2 separate regions of the Homo sapiens genome follow, and region 2 is linked to region 1. The links come from fine-mapping of genetic effects on gene expression. A gene starts in region 1. The other region holds a variant in brackets. All regions are shown on one strand. Distances are from middle to middle.

Region 1 (4,379 bases):
GGAAGACTGAGGCTGCAGTGAGCCATGATCACTCCACCGCCCTCCAGCCTGGGTGATATTGCAAGATCCTGTCTCAAAAAAAAAAAAACTGTTTTAAAATTTCAAAATCTCACCAATACAGTGGTAGTCACTCAATTTTTTTTTTTAATGAAAATGAGTTTGTTATGTTTTGTAACACAAAAAATTCATCTTCATCAGTATTTTTGCTGGTTATGTGGCATTCTATTTTTATGGATATAGCATAATGTATTTAACCAACCTTCTTTTCTTGGCTGTTTAGGTTGTTTTGGGTTCTTTGTTTTTAATCATGAGCACTGTTCCAATAAACATTGTTAATTTTAGTATAATTTAAGTATATCCTGTTTCTTCAGTACCTGTGGAGCACGTCCTATGGCAGGGGTTCTCAAACTTTAGCCCAGGCCAGACATGAGTGGAGTGCTTATGAAGCCATAGATTCCTAAGCCCCATCCCCAGAGTTTAGGCCAGGGGTGGGGCCCGAGAATTTGCATTTCCAACAAAGGCGGCTGGTAGTGCTGACACTGCTGATTTGGGAATCACACTTTGTGAGCCACCATTCTCTATTATACTTGCTTTTGAGAACCTAATAACACGTTTCCTTAGTTTCCTTTCTTACACACTTTTGCAATTGGTTTTGTACCCTATGGAGGGAGCAATTTTTTTGAGGTCTCATATTCTTTCCCCATTCATGACTCTAAGCCGTTTTCACAGCACACCTTTCCAAGAGTTTTGGGCCTGACTTTAATATTCCAATATACACGCAAATAGGCATACACACTGATTTTCAAAATTGGTTATCTTTTTCCTGCATTGCCATTTCAGAAACCTCAGCTAATAACAAAGAGAAGATAAACAAAAGCTCCTTTTCCTAGACACTGACATTTTATGTCCCATAGTCACCATACCTGGCCTGCCTCAAGAGGTTGTTGTGATGAATAACATCTATCCAAGATGGATAGAGTCAAATATTACAGATGCTTGTGAGGTGGAAAAAACTATCAGCCCAGAAGTGAGGAGGCATTAAAATTAAACTTAGTATTATTGGCCAGGTGTGGGATCCCAGGACTTTGGGAGGCCGAAGCGGGCGGATTACCTGAGGTTGGGAGTTTGAGATCAGCCTGGTCAAAATGGTGAAACTCTGTCTCTACTAAAAATACAAAAATTAGTTGGGTGTCGTGGTGCATGCCTGTAATCCCAGCTACTGGGGAGGCTGAGGCAGGAGAATCACTTGAACCTGGGAGGCAGAGGTTGCAGTGAGCCAAGATCGTGCCACTGCACTCTAGCCTGGGCAATAGAGCGAGACTCTGTCTCAAAAATAAATAAATACAATAAACTTAGTATTATGATTTATTTGTAGGCCATTGAGTCAAAGTTTAGGTTCTGGAGTTAGAACTGTATTCTGTGCAGTGGCTCATGCCTGTAATCCCAACGCTTTGGGAGGCCAGGGTGGGAGGATCGCTTGAGGGCGGTCGTTCAAAATCAGACTGGAAAAAAGAAAAGAATTTGGTTGGGTATGGTGGTGAGCCTCTGTAGTCCCAGCTACTCAGGAGGCTGAGCTGGGAGGCTCGCTTGAGCCCAGGAGTTTGAGGCTGCAGTGAACTATGATAGCGGCAAAAAAAAAAAAAAAAAAGGAACTGGATTCTATCTGGGCTGTGGTAACTTACTAGCCATGTGACCTTAGGCAAATCATGTTGCATCTCTGAACACCATTTTCCTCACCTGTAAAATGGAGGAAGTAATACCTTTGTTGCACTGATATGGCAAGAAATAGAAATAAAATGTATAAAACAACTGGGACAAAAACAGCCCTCAATGAATGATAGTTGTTAGTTTATCAAATAATTGCTTTAATTATTTTTTCCCCCGGCCCTTTCTTAGCTGAGGGTTCGGAAAAGCATCTGTTGCTCCTTGAGGTTTTCTTTTCTTCTGCCCTGACCAGAGCTTCCTATTATTTAGAAGGATTCTGGTCACCTGCCTCTGGTGGCGGCGCCGCTGGCCCTGCGGGCTACACTGAGGCCCCGCTCTTCGGGTATTTACGGCGGGCGGCCGCCCCAGCTCAGGCTCAAGACAGCGCTTCCAGGTTCAGTTTCAGGGTCTCGCCGGCAGCCCCAGCCGGCGGGCGCGGAGCGGGCAGCGGGGCCCGGATCGCAGGCTCCTCTGGGGGCCCCGGAGTTGGGAAGCGGCGTCCGGGAGCCCCCGGAGGAGGATGGGCTGCAGACACAGCAGGCTGAGCAGCTGCAAACCCCCGAAAAAGGTAAAGGGCGCCGGCGGAGAAGTTTGCTTTCAGAGGAGAGGGGAGTGCGGAATCGCTCCGCCGCAGAGGACTCGGCGCCCCGGGCTCTCTCTGGTCGGCCCGGGATACCGGACGGAGAACCTGGAGAGGCCAGCTCAGAGACGAGGGAGGCTCTGCTGGGAGGCGCCCTTTACCCCGGCCCGAGCCGCACCAAGCAGCCGAGTTTACAAACACGGCACCCGGGCCAGGGAAAGGCAGCTGATTCCCGCTGCCTCGGGTGGGGAGATGTCGTGTGTCTGTGGCAGGTGCCCTCTGCTTTCGGTCTGGGGCTGTTCGCTGTGTGGCCATGGACAAGTGACTTGACCTCTCTGGGCCTTCGGCTTCCTCCCCCCGGGGGTTAAAGGCTGATAATCTCAGGGCTGCTCGAAGAGTGTTCCACAGACTCGCAGTATCAGCATCCCTGGGGACCTGTCAGAAATGCAGAATCTCAGGCTCAGGCCCAGTCTTGCCAAGACAGAAGCTGCCTTTTAACAATATGCCCAGGTGATGACGCTTTAAAGTTTGAGGCGCTGGTCTTAGGGCTCTTGCAGGCCCCAGAGCTGGTGAGTGTGGGCTGCCCTTGGGGTAGCTGGGAGGGGCCAAAGAGGGAGGAGATCTACTGCGTTCTGTGGCCCTCTCCTCCCTTCCTGTCCTTCCCCCAAGGGGCCTTGGAGCTGGGTCAGGGCCCAGGGGACAATTCTCAGGTTTCTTGCAGTGAGACCAGCTGCCCCTTGGGGTCTGACGAGCCCAGAAGGTCAGAGCCTGGAGCTAGAAAGATAGCCTCCTCAGGGGACACTGTGAGGCAGAGGGGAAGAAGGACCCTCAAATTCTGGCCCCTTTTCTTACCACTACCTGCCCCCTAGCCAGGTGGGACTAGGTGATCCCTTAAACTTTATCATCATTCCCCCTTGAGACCTTGAGAGGCCCCAAACTGTGACAGTGTTTAATAGTTTTGCAATGAACTTTAGTCCTCCCTCTGCTCCTGCTTTGCTTGTGCCCTGAGTACAGGTTTTTCTGCCTAACAGTAGTCCTAGCCTGGAGGATTCTACTCCCTTCTCTGACACCTCCTGGCTTTCCTTGCTCTCCCTTTATTACCAGATTGAAATTCTCACCAACTCCTGACCTAGAAACCCTCATGTCTTTACTCACTCCAACAGGGAAACTGAGGCTTGGCTCTATCAGTAGAAGGAAGGGGCTGGCTGACAGGGATGACAAGGCGGAGAGACCTGAGCCTTGGCTGAGACTTGTAACTGAGCAAGTGGTAGGCAGACATTAGCCCTGGGTGTAAGTCCTGGTGGTGCCATAAACATACTGGGTGACCCCAAGCAAGCCCTTGTGTCTCCCTGGGTCTCAGTTTCTCCCTGTATGGGGAGTGATGAGCAGGATGATCCCTAAGCATCTGAGAGTCTGTGTTCTCTGCACCTGTGTCAACCTTGTAGCTTGCAAAGTGGACCAAGGGTGAATTCCATCTACCTAGAGGTGGAGGAAACGGGGAAGAGCCTGACCCTTCCACAAGCTGGAAGAGGAGGTCACAGTAAGCACAGGTTCTTTGGCTCCTGCTCCTTCTGAGAGACTTACCAGCTGTTCCTGCCTGTCCCTGGCACAGCCAAAGCTCTGAAGGGCAAGTAAAGCTGGCACAGCCTGTCTGAGTTGGAAAGGGCCTTTGGGTACTACCTGGGCTGACGCACCCACTATACAGATAGGAGGTTAAGGCCTAGAAAAGGGAAGGAGCATGACTGAGGTCACAGAGCAACACAGAGCAGAACCCAGGTATCTAGTCCCCTAGCTCCGTGTTCTTTGTCTCCACCTCCTCCCGCTGTGCTTCCAGTGGCTTCTTGATGACTTTAGCGTAAAATCTTTTACTCCTGTTGCCTCAGAGAACAGCCTGGCATGCCTTCTTGGCCCCAGCCATGCCAGGCCCCTGCCCCTATATGGCAAGATTTATGGGCTGTTTTTGTTTAAAGTTCTCATCCCTGTAGGCTGTGCTCCTGCCCAATTTCTCACCCAGGTGCCAACCCCTTGGAAGGCATGAGCTCCCAAGTTCATCCCCAACAGGCTACCAGCCCCCTGGGAGAGAGGGGGACTCCAG
Region 2 (4,379 bases), 42 kb after region 1:
GCCTAAGTGGAATGAATCAGTTCTTAGGGCTTAGTAAATAAGAGCTAGTATCATGTGTCAGACATAATTTATTGAATACTGTACATATTTTCTCATCTAATCCTCATAATTACTCTAAGAGCTGGGTCCTATTCTTCTTCTTCCCATTTTACAAATGAGAAGACTGAAATTTAAGAAGAATGAATAACTTATTCAAGATTATATAGCTAAGTGGTAGAGCAGAGATTTGAAGCAGCTCAGAACTGCCTGCCTGTCTGTGAGGCCCCCGCTCCTTGGTCAACAGATTGAATTGCCTCTTGTATACAGGCCAACAAGGAGGGCAGTGGGGACCCTGCAGCAGGCTGCTGGTCCATCTAAGGAAGGCTTCCTGGGGGAATGGGTTGGTCTCTGTGGCAGCTGCTCCCAGTAGGCAACCCTGGGCTCTGTGTGCATCCACAGGCAGCTGTCAGAAGACCTGCTTCTCACGCGTGAGGCCCTGGAGAAGGAGGTGCAGCTGCGGCGACAGCTCCAGCAGGAGAAGGAGGAGCTGTTGTACCGGGTCCTTGGGGCCAATGCCTCGCCTGCCTTCCCTCTGGCCCCTGTCACTCCCACTGAGGTCTCTTTCCTCGCCACATAGGGTGCAGGGCCTGGGCCCACCACGACGCCTGAAGTCACAGCTCCTTCCAAGGTTTTTCTGGAGAAGACAGCAGGAGCCTCTCAGTTCTTTTCCAGGAAGGAACGAGGGTGGGAGCGAGATGGAGATCCTGGGTGTGTGCCCAGTGAGCCCTGGGGCCTTGAGTTACATGGAATCACCCACAGGGTTTTGGAGGCCCCGAGAAGCGTCTTCCCTTGAGTTGGCCAAGGGAATAAGCAAGAGGAGACATTTCCTCCCTGCCCCAGCACTCTGTCCCAATCCGAGAAGTTCCGAGGCTTTCCCAGGGGCAGTCTGTGTCACGCTGGCCATTTGACATAAAGGAGACAGCCCCTGGTCCCAGCTTGTCAGCTCTGCTGCCGACTTGCTGACTTATCAACTTCCTCTAGGTGTTTCCACTCCACCCTGGCCTGCTCAGAGCCTCAGTTTACCCCTGCATTAAAATGGTGGGGGGACTGGTCAAAGGACTCTTATGTCACTGCAGTGTCCCATTCTAGGATTGTCTGAAGGCCAGAGTAGGGGTTGGGGGGAGTGTGGACAAACCCCGCAAATCAGAGTGGGGAAGGTGAGTGGTAGAGAGGGGGTCTCTGAAGGCCCTTGGGGCTGACAGGGCCAGGCAGCCTCCCCAGCTGAGGCATCATTCCTGGGCCAGAGTCGTGTCCACCAAGGGACAGTAGCCAGAGCTCCTCTTCCTTTACCAGGCAAGGTGCATCCCCTCAGCCCTCCTGGCCCTTCAGTCTTGGTGCCACCTGGGCACAGGGGCAAGCTTGGTGGTTGTGAGTCCATTCATCTATCAGAGCTGGAACCTCATCCCTGCACAGATGAGGAAACCAAGGCATGGAGCAGTTCCCAGAGTCGAATCTAGATCTCATCTGTCATCCGGGTCTTATCCTTTGCTCTGTTTTTCTCTTCAGGCTCTGGAAAATCAGATCTGTGACTTAATCTTCCTCTCCCTGGCCCTCACCCACTTAGTTTCTTTTTCATTCCTGCTCCCTGCCTTAACTCCTCCTCCCACTGCCCCTGATCCCAGGCCCAGGCTTTTACAACCTGGTGCTCAGCTTCCCCATCAGTGAAAAGGGGTGGCTAGAGTAACTAACCTCAGCAGGCCGTCCAGTCCTGATAGTCTGTGGATTTCGGATCCTTCTCAGGAAGCTTCATGTCTAATGGAGACTATAATTATAACTCCTGTTCTGCATAGAGCATTTGCATCAAAGGCTTTCCATACCCCTCCCTCCCCTGGTCCTCATAAGATCCTTGAAGCAGGTTCCTATTCCTCATTGGCAACATGGCAAACAGATCACAGGAGTCAAAGGGCCTTGCTCAAGGTCCCCAGCTTCAGCCCCAGGCCCTAAGCCAGCGTCAGAACAGTCAATCTGCATTTTTCATCAGTCATTCTATAGTGACATCATCCCAGACTGCCTTCTGTATTCCCCTGTGTACAGTCTCCTTCTGTTTCTAGGTTTAGAAGTTCAGAGGTGACTGTGTTTCTCCATTTCCACAGCCAAATGGGGGAAGAGGTGAGGCTAGGGGAGTGCTGTGCTGATTCTCCAGCCATGGTCAGACAGGTCACCCAGGAGCCTCGAGGAAAGCCCTGGAGGGAATCACATGTGTACTTTTTCATGAAGCTTTTTGCAAAGCACATCTG[C/T]GATACACTAGTTTATTGAACTAATGTCCAGGAGTAGACATGATTGGTGGCCAAGTTATTTGGGGACACCTAAACAGATCAGTGACCTGAATGACTTCTCAGAACCTTTAATATGCCAATGTGTGTGGCAAACTTACAAGAAGGGAGCTAAGTATCCAGCCTCTCCCAAACCTCTTTGAACAAAGCTTCTGTCCCTCCCACACCTCTCACCTCACAGGCACATCAGGCTGCAGAATGCGCTTTAGAAAGCATTGTTTTAGTCCAGGCACAGTGGCTCACGCCTGTAATCCCAGCACTTTGGGAGGCCGAGGTGGGTGGATCACAAGGTTGGGAGATTGAGACCATCCTGGCTAACACAGTGAAACCCTGTCTCTACTAAAAAAATACAAAAAATTAGCTTGGCGTGGTGGTGGGCGCCTGTAGTCCCAGCAGCTTGGGAGGCTGAGGCTGGAGAATGGTGTGAACCCAGGAGGCGGAGCTTGCAGTGAGCCAAGATCGCGCCACTGCACTCCAGCCCGGGTGACAGAGCAAGACTCCGTCTCAAAAAAAAGAAAAGAAAAAAGAAAGCATTGTTTTAATTGAGAGGGGCAGGGCTGGAGAAGGAGCAAGTTGTGGGGAGCCAGGCTTCCCTCACGCAGCCTGTGGTGGATGTGGGAAGGAGATCAACTTCTCCTCACTCTGGGACAGACGATGTATGGAAACTAAAAAGAACATGCGGCACCTTATTTATGTGACTTTTGTGTTTTTCTGGGAGGGTGGGGAGGTGGGTCTTCACAAGGACTTCTGCCAATGGTGGGGATCTCTGAAGAGTAAATCTGGGGCCTGGGTAGCCCACTCGTGGTTCTGGGCACTCTCCTCAAGCACCAAAGCCCCACTGGCCCTTGCTTTGCCCTAATTGTGGATGTGGGGCCTGGGGCTAGGGTGAAGCCTGGATTAAAGGATGGCCTTCAAAATAGACCAAGGCTTGGAGTGAGGCTGAGGTTGAAGTAAGTGGTGAAAACAGAGGGATGGGGTGGGAGAGACTGCGAGGATGAATGAGAAGTCACCTTCTGCACTGCAGGACCCCTCTTTGGCATCAGAAACACTGATGTTCCCACAGGTACCTACCCCTGATTCTGCCTATTGCTCCACATCCAGATGCCTGTGGCCAGGGAGGGAGCTAGGAAGGGGTAGAGGAGACACGAGGACCTCGAGTCACGTGGACATGGGTGGTGGCCAAACCAGTGCCCTGAAGGTTGGTGGCCCAGCAGGTGTAGACACCAGCATCCCTAGCCCAGGTCCCCTCCACATACAGGGTGCCCTCTGCCTCCTGCTGTACCTGGCTCTCCCCGTGTACCACATGGGCCTGTTCACTGATGTAGAGTGGTTGGCCCAACGGTAGGGGATAAAAACGGACTGTCCATCAGCTGCCCCAGGTGCATCTCTGACTCACACACCAGGGTCAGGTAAGAGGCACCATTTATCTCTTTGGGGAAAGGAGAAGTGACTTGCCCAAGGTCACACTTCAGCTTGGTGTCAGAGCACCTTAAAGGCCAGGTTCTTTGTGAAAAACGTTAAGCTTCTCAAGTCTGCAGAGAAAAGCTGGGTTTCCCTCCCCTTCTCAAAGAGTGTCCAGAGGTAACTCAGTCCAGGGAAGTACTTCCCAACGTGGGTTTTGTGGCCCTCTGCTTCTGTAGGGATGCTACCTCCTCAAAGGAGAGGAAGAGGAAGAATTTTACTACCAAAAGTGTTTTGGAAACATTAAGAAAAGCAAAGTGAAATTGGGTAGACTCCGACCACTGAGTCTGTTACATGTACCTGTGTATTTTGAATCTCCAAGACAGGTAATGGTTATAAGAGGAAGTGAGGTAGGGTGGGAGGGAACTTTCTGGTATTCCACCCTTCTAAAGAACATGTTGGGGAAATCCTGGTAAAGCCAAGCCAGTGTCTCCTGACCGTCTGTATGCTCCTTTCCCCTTCTTGGGTCTCAGTTTCCTCTTCTGACAAGTGGGAGAATGATCCTTTACCCTTTCCAATGCCTAAGGCCTCTGTGGAGTTCACCTTTATCACATCCTTGCAGCCACTGCAGGGAATGGAGAGATGAACTCGGGAAGTCGCTATGTG

Evidence for each region. PIP is the estimated chance that this variant, and not a neighbour inherited with it, causes the effect.
Region 2: its variant is fine-mapped to the expression of CCDC69 in whole blood (INTERVAL, PIP above 0.99).

The regions. Positions count from the first base shown.
Region 1 is chr5:151,221,816-151,226,194 of GRCh38, reverse strand. It overlaps CCDC69 (coiled-coil domain containing 69), which reads left to right and starts at 2,103. Exons shown (of 9, transcript NM_015621.3): 1 at 2,103-2,272. The coding sequence starts at 2,225. It overlaps LOC105378230 (a long non-coding RNA gene), which reads right to left. Exons shown (of 4, transcript NR_160730.1): 4 at 1,845-2,719. RefSeq lists silencers at 373-667, 2,151-2,230 and enhancers at 2,351-2,550, 2,571-2,680, 4,101-4,320.
Region 2 is chr5:151,179,674-151,184,052 of GRCh38, reverse strand. CCDC69 (coiled-coil domain containing 69) reads left to right here. Exons shown (of 9, transcript NM_015621.3): 9 at 439-3,001. The coding sequence ends at 616. It also overlaps the pseudogene PDGFRL2P. Among named protein-coding and RNA genes, the nearest start is that of ANXA6, 24 kb to the right of the region's middle. The variant C/T (reference allele first, on the strand shown) is at 2,277.